Linked DNA regions of Homo sapiens. The protein of the gene in region 1 purifies or fractionates together with the protein of each later gene. This does not show direct contact. Each region holds a gene or a part of one and is shown in the gene's direction. Other genes may lie near its edges. The genes, in order: SLC44A1, ANGEL1, ERICH5, TRIM13, TSPAN10, LRRC8D and CLPTM1.

What was found.
Region 2: the proteins of SLC44A1 (region 1) and ANGEL1 purify together in Homo sapiens (affinity purification with mass spectrometry; one large-scale study listed by BioGRID and IntAct). This does not show direct contact.
Region 3: the proteins of SLC44A1 (region 1) and ERICH5 purify together in Homo sapiens (affinity purification with mass spectrometry; one large-scale study listed by BioGRID and IntAct). This does not show direct contact.
Region 4: the proteins of SLC44A1 (region 1) and TRIM13 purify together in Homo sapiens (affinity purification with mass spectrometry; one large-scale study listed by BioGRID and IntAct). This does not show direct contact.
Region 5: the proteins of SLC44A1 (region 1) and TSPAN10 purify together in Homo sapiens (affinity purification with mass spectrometry; one large-scale study listed by BioGRID and IntAct). This does not show direct contact.
Region 6: the proteins of SLC44A1 (region 1) and LRRC8D purify together in Homo sapiens (affinity purification with mass spectrometry; one large-scale study listed by BioGRID and IntAct). This does not show direct contact.
Region 7: the proteins of SLC44A1 (region 1) and CLPTM1 purify together in Homo sapiens (affinity purification with mass spectrometry; one large-scale study listed by BioGRID and IntAct). This does not show direct contact.

Annotation. Positions count from the first base shown.
Region 1 is NC_000009.12:105,394,651-105,397,846, forward strand, and holds the end of SLC44A1 (choline transporter-like protein 1), read left to right. Parts: 3' UTR 1-2,696; downstream 2,697-3,196.
Region 2 is NC_000014.9:76,788,883-76,792,382, reverse strand, and holds part of ANGEL1 (protein angel homolog 1), read left to right. Parts: intron 1-1,016; coding exon 1,017-1,086; intron 1,087-1,608; coding exon 1,609-1,772; intron 1,773-2,994; coding exon 2,995-3,155; 3' UTR 3,156-3,500.
Region 3 is NC_000008.11:98,088,568-98,091,338, forward strand, and holds part of ERICH5 (glutamate-rich protein 5), read left to right. Parts: intron 1-508; coding exon 509-1,462; intron 1,463-2,771.
Region 4 is NC_000013.11:50,014,042-50,016,504, forward strand, and holds part of TRIM13 (E3 ubiquitin-protein ligase TRIM13), read left to right. Parts: 3' UTR 1-1,452; coding exon of another isoform or gene 1,453-2,030; 3' UTR 2,031-2,463. Other genes in the region: KCNRG (potassium channel regulatory protein), read left to right, coding at 1,453-2,030. UniProt on the Homo sapiens protein: Endoplasmic reticulum (ER) membrane anchored E3 ligase involved in the retrotranslocation and turnover of membrane and secretory proteins from the ER through a set of processes named ER-associated degradation (ERAD).
Region 5 is NC_000017.11:81,643,696-81,647,195, forward strand, and holds part of TSPAN10 (tetraspanin-10), read left to right. Parts: intron 1-1,296; coding exon 1,297-1,934; intron 1,935-3,500. UniProt on the Homo sapiens protein: Part of TspanC8 subgroup, composed of 6 members that interact with the transmembrane metalloprotease ADAM10.
Region 6 is NC_000001.11:89,824,032-89,827,531, forward strand, and holds part of LRRC8D (volume-regulated anion channel subunit LRRC8D), read left to right. Parts: intron 1-3,500. UniProt on the Homo sapiens protein: Non-essential component of the volume-regulated anion channel (VRAC, also named VSOAC channel), an anion channel required to maintain a constant cell volume in response to extracellular or intracellular osmotic changes.
Region 7 is NC_000019.10:44,954,049-44,958,179, forward strand, and holds the start of CLPTM1 (putative lipid scramblase CLPTM1), read left to right. Parts: upstream 1-1,331; 5' UTR 1,332-1,347; coding exon 1,348-1,419; intron 1,420-4,131. UniProt on the Homo sapiens protein: Involved in GABAergic but not glutamatergic transmission. Binds and traps GABAA receptors in the endoplasmic reticulum (ER).

The DNA of each region.
Region 1 (3,196 bases):
CTTAAAATATATTTGTCAACATGTCCAGTTCCAACAACAGTTGAAGATGATGATAAATTAGCAAACTCAAGGGTAGTCCATAGTTGGCAAAAAATAAATTTGGTAGAAAGTTGGAGGAGCAGATGCTGAAGGTAGAAATGCAAAAGATGTTTTTTCTTCCTGCATAAATCACGGAGGTGTGTTCTGTTTTAGTGTTTTCCAGTCACCCACTAGAGCAGCTTCAGATTCCTCTGCCAATAGAACTCCACCCCCAGTCCCTTACCTACTCTATCTTCTTTAGGGAAGCATGTGGATTTCTTCACATCTGCACCTTACTATTAGGTAAGGGTGCTGCATCTACATGGAAGGCTCCCTGGGCCCTTGAAAAAGCAGGCAGAAACTCATCAAGGGGTTTGAAGTTCTTGTGAAATTTGATCCCAGTGGCTCATGACTTATAGTCAGGCATCAAACCATTTCCTACTTTTTCAGGCTGAAGAAAGTGGAAATATAACTGGCTGGTGAAGAAAGGAGAAAAGTCAGCCCCCTACCCCACCCCACACTCCTAGAAAAGTTTGGGGGTTTTTTTTGTTTGTTTTTGGTGTTTTTTTGAGACGGAGTCTCGCTCTATCGCCAGCTTAGAGTGCAGTGGCTCAATCTTAGCTCACTGCAACCTCCACCTCCCAGGTTCAAGTGATTCTCCTGCATCAGCCTCCTGAGTAGCTGGGACCACAGGCATGTGCCACCACACCCAGCTAATTTTTGTATTTTTAGTAGAGACGGGGTTTCACCACGTTGGCCAGGCCAATCTCGAACTCCTGACCTCAGGTGATCCACCCGCCTCAGCCTCCCAAAGTGCTGGGATTACAGGCATGAGCCACCGCGCCCGGCCTAGAAGAGTTTTAATGAACCTTCCACAGTAGTAAATGCAGAGACCACTGGTGGAAATTCCCATGTTGGATAGAAAAGGGCGTAAGTCCAGTCTAAGTATCTAAATGTGATATGCCCTTTTGTCACAGAAGTGTAAGACTTAAAGGGAATATTCTGACCTTCGTGTATGAATCTGATCCACCCATCCTGTCAGCTAGGATTATAATTTGAACTGTCGTTTCAGGAGCATGTGTTAAATCATATGAGTAAAAAAAAAGTAGACATTGAAAAGAAGACTTGGGAATAATTGGGCAGATAGAATGGGTTCCATGGATCATTCTAGTTGCCACTAGAAAATGTGAGCTCCTTCTTCATTTACCATGTTGATAATCCGGTGGTGACTTTTTTTTTTTTTTTGTAAATTGTATTAGATACCCCACAGGAATGTGACAATAATAGGATAGCTTTGGGGGCTGGTGATTTGAAACAGGGACTATTAAGTAGATTTTCCCCCATCCTCTAGGTTCCTGTAGTCTGTGCTCAGAACTTGGTTTTTGGCCCCTATTGTTTTTGCCTATTTTGATTTTCAGAGATGATCACATGGGGACAGTTAACTTTTCTTCTGCTGTGTTGCCTTAATGCTACTAGATTGTGTTGTGTTGTTGGAGTTTTCTGACTTCTTCCCTATAAAAAGATACTGAGAGCTCCATAATGAAAGAAGTTGTTATACTTTCTCAGAATATTCTGGACCACTGAATGCACTTCTAATAGAGCTTTAATCTAAAGAAGTTAGTTCAGTGGTTATTAACTGATTTTATTACAGGAGAAAAAAACTTTAACAAAAAGGCAGGGAGAAAAGTGTGAAGGGCATCAAGCAAAATGACAGGGGCTTCAAAAAACAACCAAAGACAAAACCCTATCTTCTGAAGACCAAAGGTCCAACTTTACTTACTGGCTGGCACAGCCTTTCTGAACTCCTTGAGTTTAGAATAGAGCTCCTAGAATAATAAGGCGGCCAAATTTAAAGATCAGTCAATACAGTAGGGACCTGCTATTGATCTCTCAGGCACTGAGTCTTCACATCCAGTGTCAAGCCCAGCCCAGCATATGGGGTGATATGAGCAGAAAACACACATCGGTGTGTCTTGATTTCTCGCAGCTGTGTAATGTGGCATGAGAAGTATGTTTTGGTGCCACATATTTCTCAATCTGATGCCTTTTTGTCTTTTTTTTTTTTTGCCATTTGCATCCTATTTCATAGTGCCAAAATGAATTTTTGTATCTTGTCTTGTCTTTGTCCATTATAAACTGGAGGATCACAGTTAAGCCTTCCATGAATTCATAGTTTGGAATCATTTACCTTACCATTATTTTGGATTTTTTTCTTATTACAGTGTCACTACACTGTATTCATGTGGGGGAACAAACATGTAGGTGCTTGAACATGCCCCACAGACACAGTTGTAGCCCTAGTATTTGTGACGGTCATTATTGACACAGTGCAGACTTTGCAGATGGAGCATTATGCTCTCAGAGGACTTTAAAAATATGTATATTAAGCAATTAACTTTCTGGAGTTGGAGTTATCAAATCTTGCTGGGAAATTAACTTCCAAGAGCTCTGAATTGGATGGAATTCCATCTGGCTTCAGAGAACAATCAGCCTATATGAAACGGAGCTTTGAAATGTTTTTCTTGTGCAGAAATACGAACTAGAAAGAAAAGTGCTGATCTAATGCTAAGTTTTCTCTGTGTACTGACTCAGTTGCCAGAATTATAATGAAAACTGTATTTTAGTCTAACAAATGTATAGAATTTTTTATGTAATAAATAAAATTTTATAGGAAAGAATGTTATTGTCTACTGTGTTGTAACACTTCCCCATGCCCAGGGTGGTGACTGATAAAATCATGGGCAACATCTTCGTTTCAAATTAGGTCAGTATGCTGCAAGGGTGCCCCAGAATTTCCCAGCTGTTCCTTTCTGTCTCTCGCAGCATGTTCTGGGGGCTTCGGAATAGCAACTATAAATGTACCTAAACCAATTTCTGAAGTACAAAGTTCATCCACTGCCAGGCCAGGCTTCATAGCTGGAGTCTGAGTTGCCGCGTGAATGCTAAGATTGCAACTGAACTCAATCATCAGGCAGAGTAGAAAAGCCTCCACTGGGCCGGGCGTGGTGGCTCACGCCTGTAATCCCAGCACTTTGGGAGGCCGAGGCGGACAGATCACAAGATGAGGAGATCGAGACCATCCTGGCTAACACGGTGAAACCCCGTCTCTACTAAAAAAAATACAAAAAAATAAGCCGGGCGTGGTGGCGGGCGCCTGTAGTCCCAGCTACTCGGGAGA
Region 2 (3,500 bases), on another chromosome or scaffold:
GTGTCTCCTCTTTTTTTTGGAAGTGTTTGTGAAGGATTTGTATGAATTCCTCTTGAAATGTTTGCTGGAATTCACCAGTGAAGCCATTGAGCCTGGTGTTTTCTTTGTGGGATGTTTTAAAATTACAGATTCAATCTCTTTATTTATTATAGGCCTATTCAGATTTTCAGTTTTTTCTTGAGTTATTGTGCATAGTTTGTGTCTTTCTAGGAATTTTTCAATTTTATATAAGTTATCCAATTTGTTGGTATCCAGTTATTTATAGCATTCACTTATAGTTATTTTTTATTTCTAAATGGTTGGTGGTGATGGCCCCTCTTTCATTTCTGATTTTAGTAATTTGAGTATTCTGTTTTCTTGGTCTAGCTAAGGGCTTGTCACTGTTGTTGCTGATCCTTATTATCCTGTTAATGTTGGTAGGATCTGTACTAATGTCCCTTCTTTCTTTCCTGATATTGGTAATTTGTATCTTCCTTTTTTAACATTCGTGTGTATGATATGTATGTGTGTGTGTGCTTATAGATGTATACATATATGTAATATGTATGTATATATACATGTATGCATACATGCATAGACACACACAATGGATGGTATGTAATAGAAAGTCTTTGAAGGAATATACCAGGAATTTGGTAACATTGGTGGCTTCTGGAGAGGGGAATTGAGTGGCAGAGGAGGACAAGTGAGAGGGAAACTTCACTGATACTTTTTGCTACATTTTGATTTTGTACCATGTGACTATATGACTTATTTTTTTTTAATCAAATTAAAGAAAAACAAAGGTGAGGAGCCACAGAAGACAATGTCTGTGTTAGATGCCCTACATCTGCTTTCTGAGGTTCTTGACTTTGGTTTATGGTCATCTTCTCCTCCTCACTGTTTCTCCCTTTCTCCTTCTGGATCCTTCTGAAGCAATCCAGTCAAGGATCTGAGAGGGATTTTAGGGTGAAAGGTTCTGATCCTGCTTCACTGTCTGTGGATGAGAAAATGTTTTTCTCTCTGGTCCTCTGCAGAGCGACCTGCGGGTTGGGCTGAGTCTGTCCTTGAGGAAGATGCATCGGAGCTTGAGCCTGCCTTCTCCAGGTAACCTTCTCCAGTTCTCTTCTGTTTTCAATCCAGCCCTTGCCTAGGTGTAAGAGAGAGATTCCCATTGGTTGTCCTGAGGTTGACTTGGGGGAGCACTTTTTGATAAGCTCTTTTTCCCCTAATATCTGCTAAACTTATAGAGGGTTATGTAGGTATGCAGAAGCCAGAGGTGACCCACCCATGTTACTGCAGGTGAAAAGGCTATGTACTCTTTCCTCAGAGGGTAAAGCCTCACAGAAGAGGCCTGGGCCCCAGACAGGGGTACATTGGGGATACTTTACCAGGTAACAAGCAGATAGTGGGGGATTAGGAGTGTTAGGGAGTCTCAGTACAAATGTGTGTTTCTAGGCTAATTTTAGCTAAGACTGCCAGCCCCTTCTTAGCATGGGGAGGAATTGGCTGAGATTGAGTCATCTGAGATCATCCTTTTAAAAAATCTTCATAAAACCCATAGAAAAAGTGATCTAGGGAAAATTTAGTAATTTTTGTTAACTAATGTTTCCCCCTTCATCCCTGTAGGACTGTAGGTACCATCCAGCACTGCCTCCACCTGACGTCAGTATATACCCACTTCCTGCCCCAGCGTGGCCGCCCAGAGGTCACTACAATGCCATTGGGTCTTGGAATGACAGTAGATTACATCTTCTTCTCAGCTGAGTCCTGTGAGAATGGGAACAGAACTGGTAAGCCTGATGGATCCTGGGTTCCTCCACCCCCAGGTCCCTGGGAACAGCTAATGGTAGGTCAGGCATTTGGTAGCATGTCTTCAGCTGCTGGGATTTAACCAGCAAAGGAGCAGATTTCATACCTCCCTTGCACTGGTCATCCTTATCATTCTCCCCATAGGCCACTTGCCTGCCTTGTCTCTTTTTACCCTTGCAGCATTAAAGAGAGGAGGGTAGGACAGTCACTCCCAATCCCCATTTTAGAGGTAAAAATAGAGATCTAGGAATTGGTTGAGTTTGTTTAATGACAGCCACTGAATGAGGGACTTGGTTAGGTAAGAGACCTTATTTTCTGTCTCCTCTCCCCATACCAGTGGGCACAGTATAGCAATCTCCCAGCCCCATGCCTGTATTGTGTAAAGAATGTTTCTTTTTGGCCAGGCATGTGTATTACTGTTATGGCCAGGCACGTGTATTACTGGTTCACACCGGTAATCCCAGCACTCTGGGAGGCCGAGGTGGGTAGATCACTTGAGGTTAGGAGTGAGACCAGCCTGGCCACATGATGAAACCCCGTCTCTACTAAAAATACAAAAAATTAGCCGGGTGTGGTGACGGTGTCTGTAATCCCAGCTGCTTGGGAGGCTGAGGCAGGAGAATCGCTTGAACTCGGGAGGCAGAGGTTACAGTGAGCCGAGATCGTGCCACTGCACTCCAGCCTGGGCAACAAGCGTAAAACTCCGTCTTAAAAAAAAAAAAAAAAAAAATTAGCCAGGCATGGTGGCGGGTACCTATAATCCCAGCTACTCAGGAGGCTGAGGCAGGAGAATCGCTTGAACCCGGGGGTCAGAGGTTGCAGTGAGCTGAGATTGCGCCACTGCACTCCAGCCTGGACAACGAAGTAAGACTCCATCTAAAAAAAAAAAAAAAAAAATCAGATTTTATATAGAAAAGCTGGATCTCTAGCTTCTCTTGGAAAATCAAAAGATCTTATAATGGTGGGCTCTCCAGCTTGCCCCAGTTCCCCGGAACTCACCTGTCTTTATTCGTTGATGATATTATGGAGTATCTCTGAGAAAATGGGGCCTCCTCAGCCAGATGCTGCAAGAGGAGGTGAGGGGCAGTGGGCAGCCAAGGGGATGCAGCCTGCAGAAGGCGTTCCCAAAGGACTCTGCCACTGCCTGCCCATGCAGTGTGGCTGCGGCTGCTTTTACCCATTGGCTTCTGCTTTGTGCCCCAGATCACAGGCTGTATCGAGATGGAACTCTCAAGCTCCTGGGTCGTCTCTCCCTTCTCTCTGAAGAGATACTCTGGGCTGCCAATGGCTTACCCAACCCCTTCTGCTCTTCAGACCACCTCTGCCTGCTAGCCAGCTTCGGGATGGAAGTCACCGCCCCATGACAGGGCTCCCAGGGGAAGAGAGCTTCTCTTCCAGAAGAGCTCACTGGATCAGAGACTGTGGAAAAATCCCATGCATCTAGAAACTTAGATCCAAGAAACTTACATCCCCTCCCTTCCCCCTCCTCGTTCCCTTTTTCCCACGGTTAGACTTTCTCCAGGCCTGGCTGCGTTCTCTGCCTGTGGTCCTTGCCCCACCCCAGCCTCTTCCTAATCCTGTGCCACACACTCAGTGGCCCTGGGAGAGGCAGAAGGGGGGCTCCCCCTTCCTTCCATGTATCCAGCGCTCCCCCTTGATTTTTAATTACCAGGGTTATGGGAGTTCTTGATTTCATTGGTTATTTGCTT
Region 3 (2,771 bases), on another chromosome or scaffold:
TTCCATTTGCTGGGGGCTTTCCTGTGTTAGAAGGAAAGTAAGACCTCTCTAGCAGCCCAAGGACCTCGCATCATGAAACCTTCTAAGTTTGGGAATCTTCTATTGCCCTCCCCGCCAAAACAAAAATGGAAAAAAAATTTTTTAAAAAGGAAACCTTCTAAGTCTCAAGAGGAGAAAGTGTGAGACAAGGAAAAGAAGAGAGAAACAGAGTAAGCTCAGTTAGAATCTGGGACAGGAGCCATGAAAAGATGCACAAGGAGCAAACAGGAGAAAACTGTGGTTTTGGAGGACTTCAGCGCTTAAGATTAAATGTTTGAGCTGAAGACAATAAAGGGATTTGACTGGGAGAGTGTTAGGGTCATGGTATGGCCTTTCTGTACTCAGATATATTTGGAACTGTCTTGAACTGTTAAATCTACTTTGTGATGTCAATTCACTTTTCAAGATAAAACTAAACAATAATTTGTGTTTTCTCTTTTCTTTTTCTTTTTCAAATGAATAACCAAAGTAACTTCAAATGAGCATTTTTCAACTGCAGAAGAAAGTGAGTCCTGCTTTGCCCAACCAAAGCCACATGCACTGGGAAGAGAATCTACTGTTGATGGCAATGTACAAAGGGAAAGCCGTCCTCCCTTACAAAAGCTCAAGGTTTCAGCAGAGCCTACAGCTAATGGTGTTAAACCCCTCCAAGAACAGCCCCTGGCCAAGGACGTAGCCCCTGGAAGGGATGCCACAGACCAATCAGGGTCCACAGAAAAGACTCAGCCTGGAGAGGGACTGGAGGAATCTGGGCCGCCTCAACCAGGTGGCAAAGAGGATGCCCCAGCAGCAGAAGGAAAGAAGAAAGATGCAGGAGCAGGGACAGAGGCCGAGTCTCTAAAAGGAAATGCTGAAGCTCAGCCTTTAGGACCAGAAGCCAAGGGTCAGCCTTTGCAGGCAGCAGTAGAGAAGGACTCTCTCAGAGCAGTGGAGGTCACTGAGAATCCACAAACTGCTGCAGAGATGAAGCCTCTAGGAACAACTGAGAACGTTCTGACTCTGCAAATAGCTGGAGAGCTACAACCTCAGGGCACAGTGGGAAAGGATGAGCAGGCCCCGCTTCTAGAAACAATTTCCAAAGAGAATGAATCTCCAGAAATATTGGAAGGAAGTCAGTTTGTGGAAACAGCTGAAGAGCAGCAACTTCAGGCAACATTGGGAAAAGAGGAGCAGCCCCAGCTTCTAGAAAGAATTCCCAAAGAGAATGTAACACCAGAAGTATTGGACAGAAGTCAGCTTGTGGAAAAGCCTGTTATGAATGATCCATTCCATAAAACTCCTGAAGGTCCAGGAAACATGGAGCAGATTCAACCTGAAGGAATAGTTGGAAGCATGGAGCATCCAGCACGAAATGTAGAGGCAGGAGCATATGTGGAAATGATCAGGAACATCCATACTAATGAAGAGGACCAACGCATTGAAGGTAAAAGTTATGCTGGCAAACCTGGATGTTTAGATGTGCTCCATAGGAGACCAGCTCTGGGGAGTGGGATGGGGTGACTGACACACAGTCCCTGAAGTCACTTTCAGGTGGTTGAAGTTCGTTTGACCAAACCAAAAAGGCTTCTGTGCCTGGGAAAGAGGCATTCTATTAATGCTCAGTTTGTCAGCAAAACTTTTCCGAAACATCATCTCTGTCCAAAATTTTAACCTAGTGTTTAAATAGTGTCTAACATTGAAGGCAACATGTGAAACTTTCTGAATTTTTCCAAGTTGACACTTCATCAGGCCCCATGTATGAAATCAGGATCCAAAGTAAAGGTGAATAGATGATTACTGGAGGAATTCACCTTCCAATGAAATGATATATACATAATGGATCTTAGAATGTTATTTTCATCTTTGTGAAGCTTATCTTAGAAAATGACTGTCAGGACAGGGTGCAGTGGCTCACACCTGTAATCCCAGCACTTCAGGAGGCAGAGGTGGGAGGATAGCTTGAGCCCAGCAGTTCATGACCTGCCTGGGCAACATAGTGAGACCTTGTTCTCCAGAAAAAAAAAAAAAAAGAAAGAAAAAAGGAAAAAGAAAATGACTGTCAGTCTGCTCTTGTTCTTCTGCAGTTTTAAAATCTGTATGAGAAGACCAGAGAAAATGTACTATGTCTTAGCATATGGTGTTTTAAAATTTTAACTGTATTTTACCAGCATAAAACAAATGATGTTTACAGTGTTCTTTATTGGTGTTATAATTTAAAAAAATATTTTCTTCTGGGGTATGATTTACATTTTGGTAAATTTTAGCTTCACAGTTCAGTATACTTAAGTGAAGCATTCATTATAATCATCCATCTGTTTTTGTTTAATTCTTTCATTTATTTATTTTATTTAATTAATTTATTTATTTTTTGAGATGGAGTCTTGCTCTGTTGCCCAGGCTGGAGTGCAGTGAAGTGATCTCGGCTCACTGCAACCTCCACCTTCTGCGTTCAAGCGATTCTCCCGCCTCAGCCTCCTGAGTAGCTGGGACTACAGGCGCACACCACCATGCCCGGCTAGTTTTTGTATTTTTAGTAGAGACGGGGTTTCACCACATTGGCCAGGCTGGTCTCCAGCTCCTGACCTCATGATCCACCCGCCTCGGCCTCCCAAAGTGCCGGGATTACAGGCATGAGCCACCATGTCTGGCCAATTCTTTCATTTATTAACTCAGCATTTTTTGGCATGCCTAAACATATGCTAGGTGCTGAGATGCAGACTGAGGAAGAGATAGTCTCTGTCCTCAAGGGGCTC
Region 4 (2,463 bases), on another chromosome or scaffold:
TGATAAGTTTACATTTTTAGGAGAGTGGAGCTTTCAATCTGCCCTTTTCTCCTTTGTTTTTGTAGTTTTCACCAAAGATGATCAACTAGAAATGTTAAGTGGCTATGCAAGCAAAAGCATAGATAGGTTAAAAAAAAGGATCAGCTGGCTGGGCAGGGTGGCTCATGTCTATAATCTCAGCATTCTAGGACAGTGATGTGGGAGGATTATTTGAGGCTAGGAGTTCCAGTTCGAAACCAGCTTCGTAAACATAGCAAGACCCAGTCTCTACCAAAAAAAAAAAAAAAAAAAAAAAAAAAAAAAATATATATATATATATACACACACACACACACATATGTACACATACATATATATACATATATATGTATATATAGAACACATGGCAAGAGCAGGAAATGGGAAGACTACCTTTTTTCTGGCAGCTATGTGTTGTTTTGTTCGAAAGATGGCAAGTGTACAACCAAACCAATCCACTTGCTTACAGAAAGAATGTTTAGTGTAGTTAAGACTAATTTGACAACAGATAAAACAGTCTGTCAGCTATTACAAAGTAATCAGCTGAACACTAATGCTGTTCTGTCTGCTCACAAGAGATAAAGATACCCTCTCATGGAATAAACACCTTGCTTAGAATTCATATAACAAAGAAGTAACCTTATAACTGCTCTCTAGTCTGCCTTATTTGTGTCATAGAGTAAGATATTCCTTGAAAGCCCATTAAGTGGAATAGACTTTCTGAAAATAAGAGTTCTTTACCTCAGTCCTCCTCTAATTTGGTTGAGAGGAGGTAATGAAAATGGGGACAGGATAAAAGGTGGCAACTAAATTTAAAGCACAGAAGAAATGATTTCCTTCTAGCTATGAGAATAGTCAAATTGAGCTTGCCAGGCTGTCTCATTCCTAACATGTAATTCATGATTTAGCCACTAAATTTCTAAGGAGATCATAAGAAATTAAGAAAAACGTTTAAGTCTAGCCTCTGCGTGGTAGACAGGTATGGGGAGGGAGAATGCTTTTCCCCTCCCAGTAATAAAAAAAAAAAAAAAAAAAATATATATATATATATATATATATATATATATATATATATATATATATATATATATAGTTTTACTAGGTTTTCATGGATAAGTTTTTAAATGTAAGACAGGAAAGGGATCTATTTGATGTCTATCTTCAGATATATTGGCAGTTTTCCTTAAGCTATTTAGTTCCTCATCTGTTGCTTTTTCATTTTGTATACTGCAAGTTCCCAGGCAACTCGAATTTGCAAACACAGCCATGGATACACTATTTACCTTACAGTAGTTTCCTGGGAATCTAAGTCTGGTTTTTGTTATTCTTCCCTCCCCTCCACTGCATAATCATGTATAACTAGCAACATTTATGGTTATAGGTTGATTTCCTAAGTGTGGCTGATGGTAGCCTCTAGTTTGAAGTGAGGGAAGAATGAGTAGTCAGGAACTGGTCACTTTGAATGTGGGAGGGAAGATATTCACGACAAGGTTTTCTACGATAAAGCAGTTTCCTGCTTCTCGTTTGGCACGCATGTTAGATGGCAGAGACCAAGAATTCAAGATGGTTGGTGGCCAGATTTTTGTAGACAGAGATGGTGATTTGTTTAGTTTCATCTTAGATTTTTTGAGAACTCACCAGCTTTTATTACCCACTGAATTTTCAGACTATCTTAGGCTTCAGAGAGAGGCTCTTTTCTATGAACTTCGTTCTCTAGTTGATCTCTTAAACCCATACCTGCTACAGCCAAGACCTGCTCTTGTGGAGGTACATTTCCTAAGCCGGAACACTCAAGCTTTTTTCAGGGTGTTTGGCTCTTGCAGCAAAACAATTGAGATGCTAACAGGGAGGATTACAGTGTTTACAGAACAACCTTCAGCGCCGACCTGGAATGGTAACTTTTTCCCTCCTCAGATGACCTTACTTCCACTGCCTCCACAAAGACCTTCTTACCATGACCTGGTTTTCCAGTGTGGTTCTGACAGCACTACTGATAACCAAACTGGAGTCAGGTATTTTGTACTTTGCAGTATTTCTCTTGTATACCAGTTTGTGATGTTTTCTCTAAAAACTTGAAGTTCCTCAGGCCTGTAACTTCTGGAAAAGATGATTATTCAAAATAATGTTTTGGGGTAACCAGTGGAGTTGGGTAGAATGACCAAATAATTATTTTCCAAACTGGGATACTTTTTAGAGTGAAAGGGGCTATTATTAGGTGGGACAAAAGGAATAAATGAAGACTGCCCAGAAAAAACTGAGACTATGGACATTCAAATCATGGGAGAAAATAATTTTGTAGATTATGTTCCATTGCTAATGAATTTGACTTAGAAAAGAATTGCCTTATTTTTAAGAGATTGTTTCAGTGGTTCACATAAAGGCTCGCTCACTGGTTTCTCTTGAGTTCCTTACACACTATATAAGTTGTTCTTTCAGTTTTATGAT
Region 5 (3,500 bases), on another chromosome or scaffold:
TGGCTTGAGCCCAGGAGTTTGAGGCTGCAGTGAGCTGAGAGCCTGATGCTGTGATCAGCTTCTTCCTGGTGAAACTGGATTGGAATGGGATCCTTGCCCAGCACACAGCCATGGCTGCTTTTTATTATTTATTTAGTTTTTGAGATGGAGTCTCGCTCTGTCACCCAGGCTGGAGTGCAGTCACGCGATCTCTGCTCATGCAACCTCTGCCTCCTGCTCATGCAACCTCCACCTCCTGGGTTCAAGCGATTCTCCTGCCTCAGCCTCCCAAGTAGCTGGGATTACAGGTGTGTGCCACCACGCCCGGCTAATTTTTTTTTTTTTTTTTTTTTTAGTAGAGATGAGGTTTCTCCACGTTGCTCAGGCTGGTCTCGAATTCCCGACCTCAGGTGATCCACCCACCTCAGCCTCCCAAAGTGCTGGGATGACAGGCGTGAGCCACAACGTCCAGCCCGGCCATAGCTTCTTATTCTCCTTTTTAAAAAAACTCTTCCCGGCAGAACTGGGCACCTGCGGGGCTGCCTCTTCCCCCACAGAGAGAGACCAGCAAGCCTTTCCTGCCAGTGGGCCAGGGGGTCCCCTCTGAAGGCCCTGCAGCCTCCAGGCGGTCTTCCTGGGCTCTTGGGCACCCTCCTCCCTGTCCTGGGAGCCTGTTGGGCAGGGCACTGTCCTGTCCTCGGCAGCAGGGTCCAGTGCCGTGTCCACACTCAGTGCGGGCCGTTGGTGGGGCCGAAGAATGGGTGCTGGGATGTGAGGACTGGTTTCAGAGGGGAAAGAAAAGGGCAGCCATGTGGGCCAGCCCCTGTGGCTGGTGAGGAAGCCCCTCTACACAAGTTCCATGCTGCAGGCACACACAGACTGATCCACGCAGATGCTGTTTCAAACTCTGGGGACGCAGCCCCGCCTGTGTGCTGCGGGAAAGCCAGGGCGACCCTGACCCGGGGAGGCCGCAGACACCCACGCATAGGACCAGGAGGGAGTGGGTGTGTTCACTGAGCACCGCCCTGCTTGGTCTTCACCACAGCCTTTCAGAGTCTGCTCATCACCCTGTTCTAAAGGTGGGGTCCCACCAGAGCTGGGACCCTCACTGCCCCTTCTGCTGCTCAGCCGAGCGGGACGGCCCTGAGGGCCCCCTGCCCCTGGCTGTCCGCATCTCTGAGCTCCAGTGCTGCCCTCCGCCATCCGGCATCCTCCCATCCCTCGAAGGCTCTGCCACCATGCTCTTCCCTGACCCCTCACCAGTTGTCACAGAGTCTGGGTGAATGCGGTCTCACCCTGTTCCTCTTCCCTCTGCAGGAAACTGCAGGCCAGAAGCCCCTCTCTGTGCACAGGCCACCCACCTCAGGCTGCCTAGGTCCAGTGCCCAGGGAGGACCAGGCGGAGGCCTGGGGCTGCAGCTGCTGTCCCCCGGAGACCAAGCACCAGGCCTTGAGTGGCACCCCCAAGAAAGGACCAGCCCCTTCCCTCTCCCCAGGGAGCAGCTGCGTCAAGTATCTGATCTTCCTCTCCAACTTCCCCTTCTCCCTGCTGGGGCTGCTGGCCCTGGCCATCGGGCTCTGGGGCCTGGCTGTCAAGGGGTCTCTGGGAAGTGATCTGGGGGGGCCCCTGCCCGCAGACCCCATGCTGGGGCTGGCACTGGGAGGGCTGGTGGTCAGCGCAGTGAGCCTGGCTGGCTACCTGGGCGCCCTCTGTGAGAACACCTGCCTGTTACGTGGCTTCTCTGGGGGCATCCTTGCCTTCCTGGTGCTTGAGGCCGTGGCGGGGGCCCTGGTGGTGGCCCTCTGGGGCCCGCTGCAAGACAGCCTGGAGCACACCCTGCGTGTGGCCATCGCCCACTACCAGGACGACCCAGACCTGCGCTTCCTCCTCGACCAAGTCCAGCTCGGGCTGAGGTGCTGCGGAGCTGCCTCCTACCAGGACTGGCAGCAGAACCTGTGAGTCTTGGAGTGGGCGAGGGACAGGGCCACCACAGGGTCGCAGAGGCCACACACCCTTGTGCGTGTACACACAGTCACTCACACGTACATACTCATTCGTGCATGCCCACATGCATGCACACGTATACCCACATGTACACGCATATCCACACTGGCACGTCTCGTGCTCACAGGTTTCACGTGTGTGGACACACACCTACACACTCCTCTACACTGACATGAACATGTTCTTGTGCACACACAAAACAGCCTCACACTCAGGCACACACTCACACTCAAACATGTTCATACACACACGTGTCATGCACACAAGGTATAGGGGTGCTTGCCTCTCCTTGTTCTATGGGCTCAGGGCCCCAATCAGCCCTGCGGCCCCCAGAACGTGCAGGGTGACTCTGTTCCCCCCGCCAGGGCCAGGAGGACTACCCAGGAGCTTAGTTGAGAAGCTGAGCCCACAAACTTAGAAAGTCATTTTTCTGCTGGGCACGATGGCTCACACCTGTAATCCCAGCACTTTGGGAGGCTGAGGTAGGCGGATCACCTGAAGTCAGGAGTTCAAGACCAGCCTGGCCAACATGGTGAAACCCCATCTCTACTAAAAATACAAAAATTAGCCAGGCATGGTGGCAGGCACCTGTAATCCCAGCTACTCAGGAGGCCGAGGCAGGAGAATGACTTGAATCCAGGAGGTGGAGGTTGCAGCCAAAACAGCACCACTGCATTCCAGCATGGGCAACAGAGCGAGCATCCATCTCAAAGAAAAAAGGCCGGGCGCGGTAGCTCACGCCTGTAATCCTAGCACTTTGGGAGGCCGAGGCGGGCGGATCACGAGGTCAGGAGATCAAGACCATTCTGGCTAACACGATGAAACCCCGTCTCTACTAAAAAATAGAAAAAATTAGCTGGGTGTGGTGGCGGGCGCCTATAGTCCCAGCTACTCAGGAGGCTGAGGCAGGAGAATGGCGTGAACCCAGGAGGCGGAGCTTGCAGTGAGCCGAGATCGCCCCACTGCACTCCAGCCTGGGCGATGGAGGGAGACTCTGTCTCAAAAAAAAAAAAGAAAAGAAAATGACTTTTAGGTGAATTCAGGACATTATTCTGGAATCTGACTCCACAGTTTCCCTCCACCGTGAGTGTCATTAAACGCCGTGCATTTAGGATCCAGTGCAGGATTTTCTTATATTCTGCTCAAGGGTAGCTGTCTTTTTGTTGGTTTGTTTGTTTGTTTTTTTGAGACGGAGTCTCCCTCTCGCCCAGGCTGGAGTGCAGTGGCTCGATCTCGGCTCACTGTAAAGAGGGTAGCTGTCTGTTTTATCAGCTATCCCCAGTGCATGCACACCCCAAGCAGCACCTACTCTCCATGCCACACCCAGGACAGACGATATGCACTCTGTCTCCCAAGCCTTCTTGGTGCATGTATCCAGGAGCAGCTGAACACAAGAGATGAAGTCATAGGCAACCCTGAAAACTGGCCATTGGGACCCAGCAGTGGCTAACAGGCGGGTCCTTCCAGACTCTGCAAAGCACCACATAGGTTGGTTTTTGGCCACGTGTGACTGGGTT
Region 6 (3,500 bases), on another chromosome or scaffold:
CAGCAGACATTGAGGAATGTCGGAGACATTTATGGTTATCATAGCGAGGTGGCAGGTGCTGCTGTCATCTAGTGGCTAGAGGACAGGGATGATACATAAGCATCCTACTGTGCACAGGACATCAACCCCCTTCCTCCTAAACAAAGAATGATCCTGTCCAAAATGGCGATAGTGCCTGCCCTTAGATCTCAGAATAGGTCTTGAAGGGAGGTGGTTCTTGACATGGGAGGAGTAATAACATTGAGCTTAGGAAGCTGATGTAGGAGACTTGTGCTCAGGTCTGATGTGATTAGGGTCTGGGCAAATCCTTATTGAAAGAAAGGGGCAGTTTGGAGGGAGATCATAGCAGATGAGCACAGTATGATAGTGGAGTAAGTTGGGAATCATTGAAATCAGAATTGGCATTTTAGAGGGGCCCTATCCAATTTATTTATTTTAGTAAATTCTTACCCTTTCTAGGTAACTTTTGTTTAACCCCAGGAACCGTGAACTTCTCCTGAAGACAGGTTATTACACCTTTGGACTGTTTGTTGTATTTTTACTTGAGCTGAAGACTGTCTCCTTGAATTTTTTTTTCCAATGATTTTCTTCTTTTGGAGCTGCCTACTCTCTTTGAATGCACCAAGACAATATGATGTCCCCTTACCCCCAGTTGACTTTGCTAATGCAAACTAGTCCCAATTCTTTTCACAGTCTTTTATTGGGATGTGGTTTCTCGATGTCTTCTCAGTTTATCGGCATCTCACATGGAGAATCTGGAATTGAATATGTAATTGAGATGTGATCTGGCCAACAGAGAGTACAGTAAGACAGCTGTTTGCTGAGACCTAAGCATAAATGTCTACTTACTGCACCTTAAGCTTACAACTGCCTATGATTTTCTTAGGCAGTGCCGAGCACAAACTTCTTTATTAGATAATCATGTTTTGGATAGTCAAAACCCCCAGATATTTGCTCTGTGAGCTGCTGCATCCTGTATTTCTTGGGCAGATTTTTTTGGAGAAGTTTTTTTTGTTGTTGTTGTTCCTTCTCAATGTTATCCTATTTATTTTGATCCAGTCTTCTAGCCTTTGACATTTTTGAATTTATGTCTTCTAATTATATCAGAGAGGAATGGAGGATGACTTTGTTGAAAACTGTAGTCAGTACTATGTAAAACTCAGTAGTTTGGGGGCTCTATTGGTCCTATATGAGAGCTGAGATCACTGAGTGATGGAGGTGAGTTCTAGGGCTAATTAGCCCTTATTTTGGGGGCTTCTGAGAAATTTAAATGCCAGGCCACATGGCATTTAGCTCTTGAAATGTTTGCACCTGGGGTACCATTTTGAAATTGTTCAAGTCTGTTGCAAGCTTCTGAAATCTGAATTCCTTCCTCTGGGTCTTTGTAGTTCTGTTTATGTATCTGGAAGAGAGTTTCTAATGTTTTGTGCAAATCTGAAGCTTGCAGGGTTAGAGTTGCTTTTGAAATTTGTGAGAAGATAGGATAACTGGCAAAAATCAACTATGGACTTGTTTCCCACTCAGGCTAAGCTTTGTTTTCTTTTTTGCTAATATGCCTCAAATATTTAGTGACAGCCTTATATTTAGAGAAGGAGAGAGGATTGAGGTTTAGAAGCAAACCTTTTTCTCAGAGCTTGGCTTTAACTTGCCGTTGATGTAAGTTCATACTTAACTTGAATTTTACAGTCTTCACTACAAAGACATTAGGAAATTACCATTCCCAGATGTCTTCTGAAGCTGGCAGGTAAGAAATCCCAGGTACCTTAGTGCCAAGTTCTCCAAATACTCTAGATCTATCCAGTGAACTAGATTTAATAAATTACTTGATTTGGGTGGTAGCTGTCTCACAGTGTTGAAGGAGAGCTAGAGGAAAATTTCAAATCTCATGGCCAAATGTGTGTCACCTCTTTGTGATGAGTGTCCATTGTGCCCCAATCCTTTGTTAGTGTGTTGGCTGTCCAGATGGTGCAGTCTACTTGGTTTCCCTTCTTTACCAGTCCACGTGGGCAACCTCTTTATATCCTCTGGAGATGAAGGATATTCCAATGAAAAGAAGGGATGCCTTTTGAATATTTGAAATTTCTTGAGGGGAAAAGTGTTGCTGTCCTTTTATATTGTCAAAGGCTGTGTCGAAGTTGGAGTCTTAGAATTAAGGATGCAGTTGTGTCACTTTGAATAGAAAGAATATTATAGCTGGAAGGGATCAACCCTTAAATTTTATTTTATTTTATTTTATTTTATTTTATTTTTTTAGACGGAGTCTCGCTCTGTCGCCCAGGCTGGAGTGCAGTGGCGCGATCTCAGCTCACTGCAAGCTCCGCCTCCCGGGTTCACGCCATTCTCCTGCCTCAGCCTCCCGAGTAGCTGGGACTACAGGCACCCGCCACTGCACACAGCTAATTTTTTGTATTTTTAGTAGAGATGGGGTTTCACCATGGTCTCGATCTCCTGACCTCATGATCCGCCCGCCTCGGCCTCCCAAAGTGCTGGGATTACAGGCATGAGCCACCGCGCCTGGCTACCCTTAAATTTTATAGTTGAGCGTATCCAGGCACAGGGAGGTGATGTGCTTAGCGTAAGTTTACACATGTAGTGACAGAGTAGGCATTAGAATCTATCTGCCTTAAAGACCACAATAAAGGCTAAGGATCAGGATTTCTTCTCTGCTTAGAGGTGTGTAAACAGTGGGGTCCCTCGGGTCTTATTTACATAATTGATCTAAAAGAAGGAACACACAGTGGAATTTCTAGGTTTGCAGATGACAGCTTTTCTGGATTATGAAATGTCTAACCACTGGGTATTTGCTCCAGGGAAACCACACTAGGATGTATTAGTCATCAGACGATTTGCAGGTGAGTTTCTTGTGGGCAAATAGGTGGTTGGGTATTAAGGGGAAATTACAGAATTTTCATAGGATGGTGTTTTGTTGGATAAACTCAGGGAAGGGCTCTGAAAATACCTTCATGTTGTTGTCCTGACTTGCTGTTGCAGAAAAACAAAAACCATGAAATGCTAGGCTTCATCAAAAAGATTTTGGGGCTGGGCATGGTGGCTCAGGCCTGTAATCCCAGCAGTTTGGGAGGCTGAGGTGGGCAGATCACCTAAGGTCAGGAATTCGAGACCAGCCTGGCCAACCTGGTGAAACCCCGTCTCTACTAAAAATAAAAAAATTAGCCAGATGTGGTGGTGGTGCCTGTAATCCCAGCTACTCGGGAAGTTGAGGCAGGAGAATCACTTGAACTCAAGAGGCGGAGTTTGCAGTGAGCTGAGATCGCGCCATTGCACTCCAGCCTGGGCAACAGAGACTGTCTCAAAAAAAAAAAAAAAAAAGATTTTGGGGAAAAAAATACAAAATATAGTCTTAATTGAGTTTTCACTGTGTTTTTTCCCCCAAATTCGTGGGCACCTAACCTTCAGAAAGACACTAGAGCTGGAATGACCATTGTAATGATACCTACCTAGAATGTTTGGACATTGCTGCTAGAATGTAAGCTTCATGA
Region 7 (4,131 bases), on another chromosome or scaffold:
CGATTATATCCCTGGTTTATAAAAGGGGAGAAACTGAGGCTCAAACATAGATGTCACTTGTCACCAGCCTGGCCAACACGGTGAAACTCCGTCTCTACTTACAAAAAAAAAAAAAAAATGGGAGGCTGACGCAGGAGAATTGCTTGAATCCGGGAGGCAGAGGTTGCAGTGAGCCGAGATCGCGCCACTGCACTCCAGCCTGGGTGACAGAGCGAGACTCCGTCTCAAAAAAAAAAAAAAAATTAGCCAGGAGTGGTGGCGTGCTCCTGTAATCCCAGCTACTCGGGAGGCCGAGGATGCAGTGAGCCGAGGTTGCAGTGAGCCGAGATCGCGCCATTGCACTCCAGCCTGGGGGAGAGTGAGGCTCCGTCTAAAAAAGAAAAAAAAAGAGAGAGAGAGACGTCACTTGTCCAGGATATCTTATCCAGTCAGTAGCACCACAAGGGTTAGAACCCTGGCCAGACATCCACCCAATTTCACGGGTGAACAGTTAACAGCCTCTGAGAGTCTTGTCCTCTCTGGGCCTCCGTAACACCCTCTCCAAACTAAGGGTCTCTCAGCAGATGGCCGGGTTTAGAGCTGTACGAAGACACACAGCTAATGAAAAATTGTGGAATTCTCAGAGCCCGTGAAGCCTAGCCCACGGATGCGAGGTTTGGACCACTGAGGGAACGCGCATGCGTGCTAGGCAGGGCAGTCCGAAGGCTTGGGGGTGTATCATAGGGTCTCATCGGAGGTTTGTTGGCCGTAAGACCCCTGGAATTGGAACTCTAAAAACACAGAAAGGATATGAGCTCAGGAGACTTGAACGAAAGAGTTGTCTTAGGAAGAGGGGTCAGAAGACAAGGGTGCTGGGCAAAAGGCTAGTTCTTCGAATCAGAATACGGTGGCCAGAAAGGTTCCTCTGACGAAAGAGGGGCGTGGTTCGAAGCCGTACAGTGGCCGGTAAAGCTCAAGAAACATGGAACGAAAAGGACGCGAAGAATCGGCAGGGAGAAGCGGACAGGATGTCCCGAAAGGCTCATATAACCGAAAAGGCGGGTTAATGTGAAGGGACGGAAGGGACAGAACTTGCGGGAGGCACATGCTGGCCGAGAAAGTCCTGGAGTTCGGAGCATACAGTGTTTTTATTAGGTGGAAACAAACGGGCTGGGAGAAAGACGAGTACGGTGGCCAGGTTGGTCCTTCCATAGCCGGAAGTGGCCTTCCTGAGAGGCGTGGCTGCGGCACTCTTGCCGGATAGGGTGGCCCGGCGGGGCTAGGAAAGCGTGAAATCTCGCGCGATTGCGCTGCGAAGTCGGGGACGGGGCGGGGCTGGCGGCGGGGGCGGGGACCCGGAGCGGGAAGATGGCGGCGGCGCAGGAGGCGGACGGGGCCCGCAGCGCCGTGGTGGCGGCCGGGGGAGGCAGCTCCGGTCAGGTACGGAGGCCGAGAGGGGACTGAGGGGGTTCTTCCCCAGCCGGGGGGCCTCCCACGGGGCGTGTCCTACCTCTTGTCACGGAATCCCGTGCACTGGGGGCTCCTTGGCCAGAGGGACCTTGAATACCCGGCCCAGGCAGGGCCGGACCGCCCGGGAGGCCGGACGGTGCCGGGAACAGGGCCCTGTTGCGGGTCGGTTCCCCTGCACGCTCGAGCCGGGCGGCCACCAGGCTCATTGCTCGATCCGGGGAGACAGTGGCTCGGAGGGGCGCAGGCTTGTACCTTGGCGCGCTGGGTTCTCAACTCCGCGATTCCATGCTCTGAGGCCGTTCCTAGAGTGGTCTGGCGTTCAGGTCTCGTTGTAGTGTTTGAGGTGTGCGCAGTGATTAATTGGGAGTTTTCTAGCTGTGGGGAAGTCAGTATTAGCAGGGCACGGCCGACAGACCCATTTTACAGACGGGAATTCAAGGAACAGTGAGACTAAGGCGCTTCTAGAAGGTCATCCTGGTTAGGTTTGTAACTTTATGTAGAAGTTACAAGACACTGCTGACACAGGGACTGGTATGGTTGTGGTTTTAATGTAAAATAGTTCTATGGGTTAATTAGTCCTGGTGCGGATGACTTCTGCCCCACTGCTGTCTTAACACACTGCAGAGCATACCATTTCAGGCAGCTACCGTTCAGGCATTTGGGGAATAGATGGAGAGACATGAAGGTGCTGTCGACCCACCCACTGGGATGTCACTGACATGTGGGAGGCAGCTCAGGGGAAAGGAGTGCGGGTTGAGAGGGGAGAATGAAGCTGACTCTCTGTGTGACCTTGGGCAAGTTCCTTTCCCTCTTTAGGCCTTTATCTCTCCCGTGTTAAATGCAGAGGTTGGACAGGAGGGCCAGCCATATCCCTGCTGTCAGGGGACGAAGAGAGGAGACTGACATGTAAACAGTTGTAATCCTGAATGATTAGGTTGGTGACAAAAGTCTGTGTCAGGGACTGGGGGAGCCCAGAGAAAGAGCAAGTGGTATCACTTGGGTAGGACACATGGATGAAATTTGTGTGATAGAGCCCACTGTATCTGCTCTGAATCTTTTCAGCATTCTCAGCCAGGGCCTGGCTTCAGGGACAGCTTAGGAAATGTTTGTTGAGTTAGTGCTGGAATGAAGGCTCAGTTCCTGTCTTCAAGGGTTTCCCAGTCTTGCTGAAAGGAGGTCGTTTCCCCTCTGGGTTTCTGTTGATTATTGGGTTGATGGTGGCTTGAGAGACCAGGGCCCAGGTTGTTCTCATTGCCCTGAGCTTCCAGATGGCACTCTGATCTTCTCTTGTACCAACTCTGCTTAAAAACAATCAAGAGTTACCCCTTTGCCTTTAGGACAAAGTACAAATTCTTTAATAAATCACAGTCTTGCACGATCCGACACTTTTCTTCAGACTAGACTAGGATTTCTCGAGCTCGGCACTATCAACATTTTGAATTGGATAATGCTTTGTTTGGGGGGCTGCCCTGTGCATTTTAGGATGTTTAGCAGCATCCGTGGCCTCTACGCACTAGATGTCAGTAGGATCCACGCCCCTCCCCAGTTGTGACAACCATATATGTCTCCAGACATTGCCAAATGTTCCAAGAGCAGGGGGGCAAAGCCATCCCTGCGTGAGAACAACTGCGCTAAAGGGGATCCGCTGCTCTGAACCTATTTTATTTCTAAACCTCTTTTATTGCCTCTCAGTCTCTTTCCTCATAGTCTATGCACAGGTCTCTCCCCTCTTTAGCTAGTTGATGTGTATTAGTCCTACAGATTTCAGATGTCCCTTCCTGCAGAAAGCCCTCTTTGACTGTCTGGGCTCCGCTGTCCCAGCCCTGCCCTACTGGGTTTCACTGTCTGGGGACTGGGAACCCCAGGAGGGCAGAGCCAGGACTGCCTTGATCACCACTGCTTCCTTAGCACCACTCAGCTCAGCGCCAGGCACAGAGGAGGTGCTCAGTGTTTGTGGAATGAGCGGATCTTGAAACAGAGGCTGGGCTGAGGTGGAATTCCCTGATGCCGTGGTGGATCCAGGTAATCAGTGAAGACATGCCGCAAAACCTAGCTTCCTCCTGCTCTTGCCTAGCCCTGGTGGTCTCAGCTACTTCTTGGACCCTTTAGCAGATGTTGCTGGGGATTGTGTGTGTGCGTGGACGTGCAGATCCGAGAGCAGGAACTGTGTCTTAGTCACTGATGTGTCCACAGCCACTGCCACCCTTCTCCCATGCCCAGGGCCTAGTGCACAGCAGGCACACCCTCTGCACAGTCTGCTGCTTTAGCTAGCCTGCTCCTGTAGCCAGGAACTCGGACACAGAACCCACAGCTTTGCCATTCCTTCCTTCAGCGAATGCGAATTGAGTCTACTCCATGCTAGGCCTTTGCTGATGCTGGAGATACAGCTGTGAATAAAATAGGTGCTGCCCTCTTGAAGGCCCTTACACTTATGTTCTAGTTGGAGCTGAATTTATAGGGGAAGCACAGACAGGGACACACAGTGAACAAGATAAATAAGAAAAACAGCAGTTCAGATGGCTCTGCGTGCCATGGACAGAAATAAAGCTGGGATGGGGATAGGAAGTGAGGGGTGGGTAGAAGAGTTGCAATTAAATAGGGTAGTCTAGAAGGCCTCTCTGAGGAGGTGACGCTTGAACAAAGACCTGAAGGAAGTGAGAGAGGGAGTCCCAAAGATACACG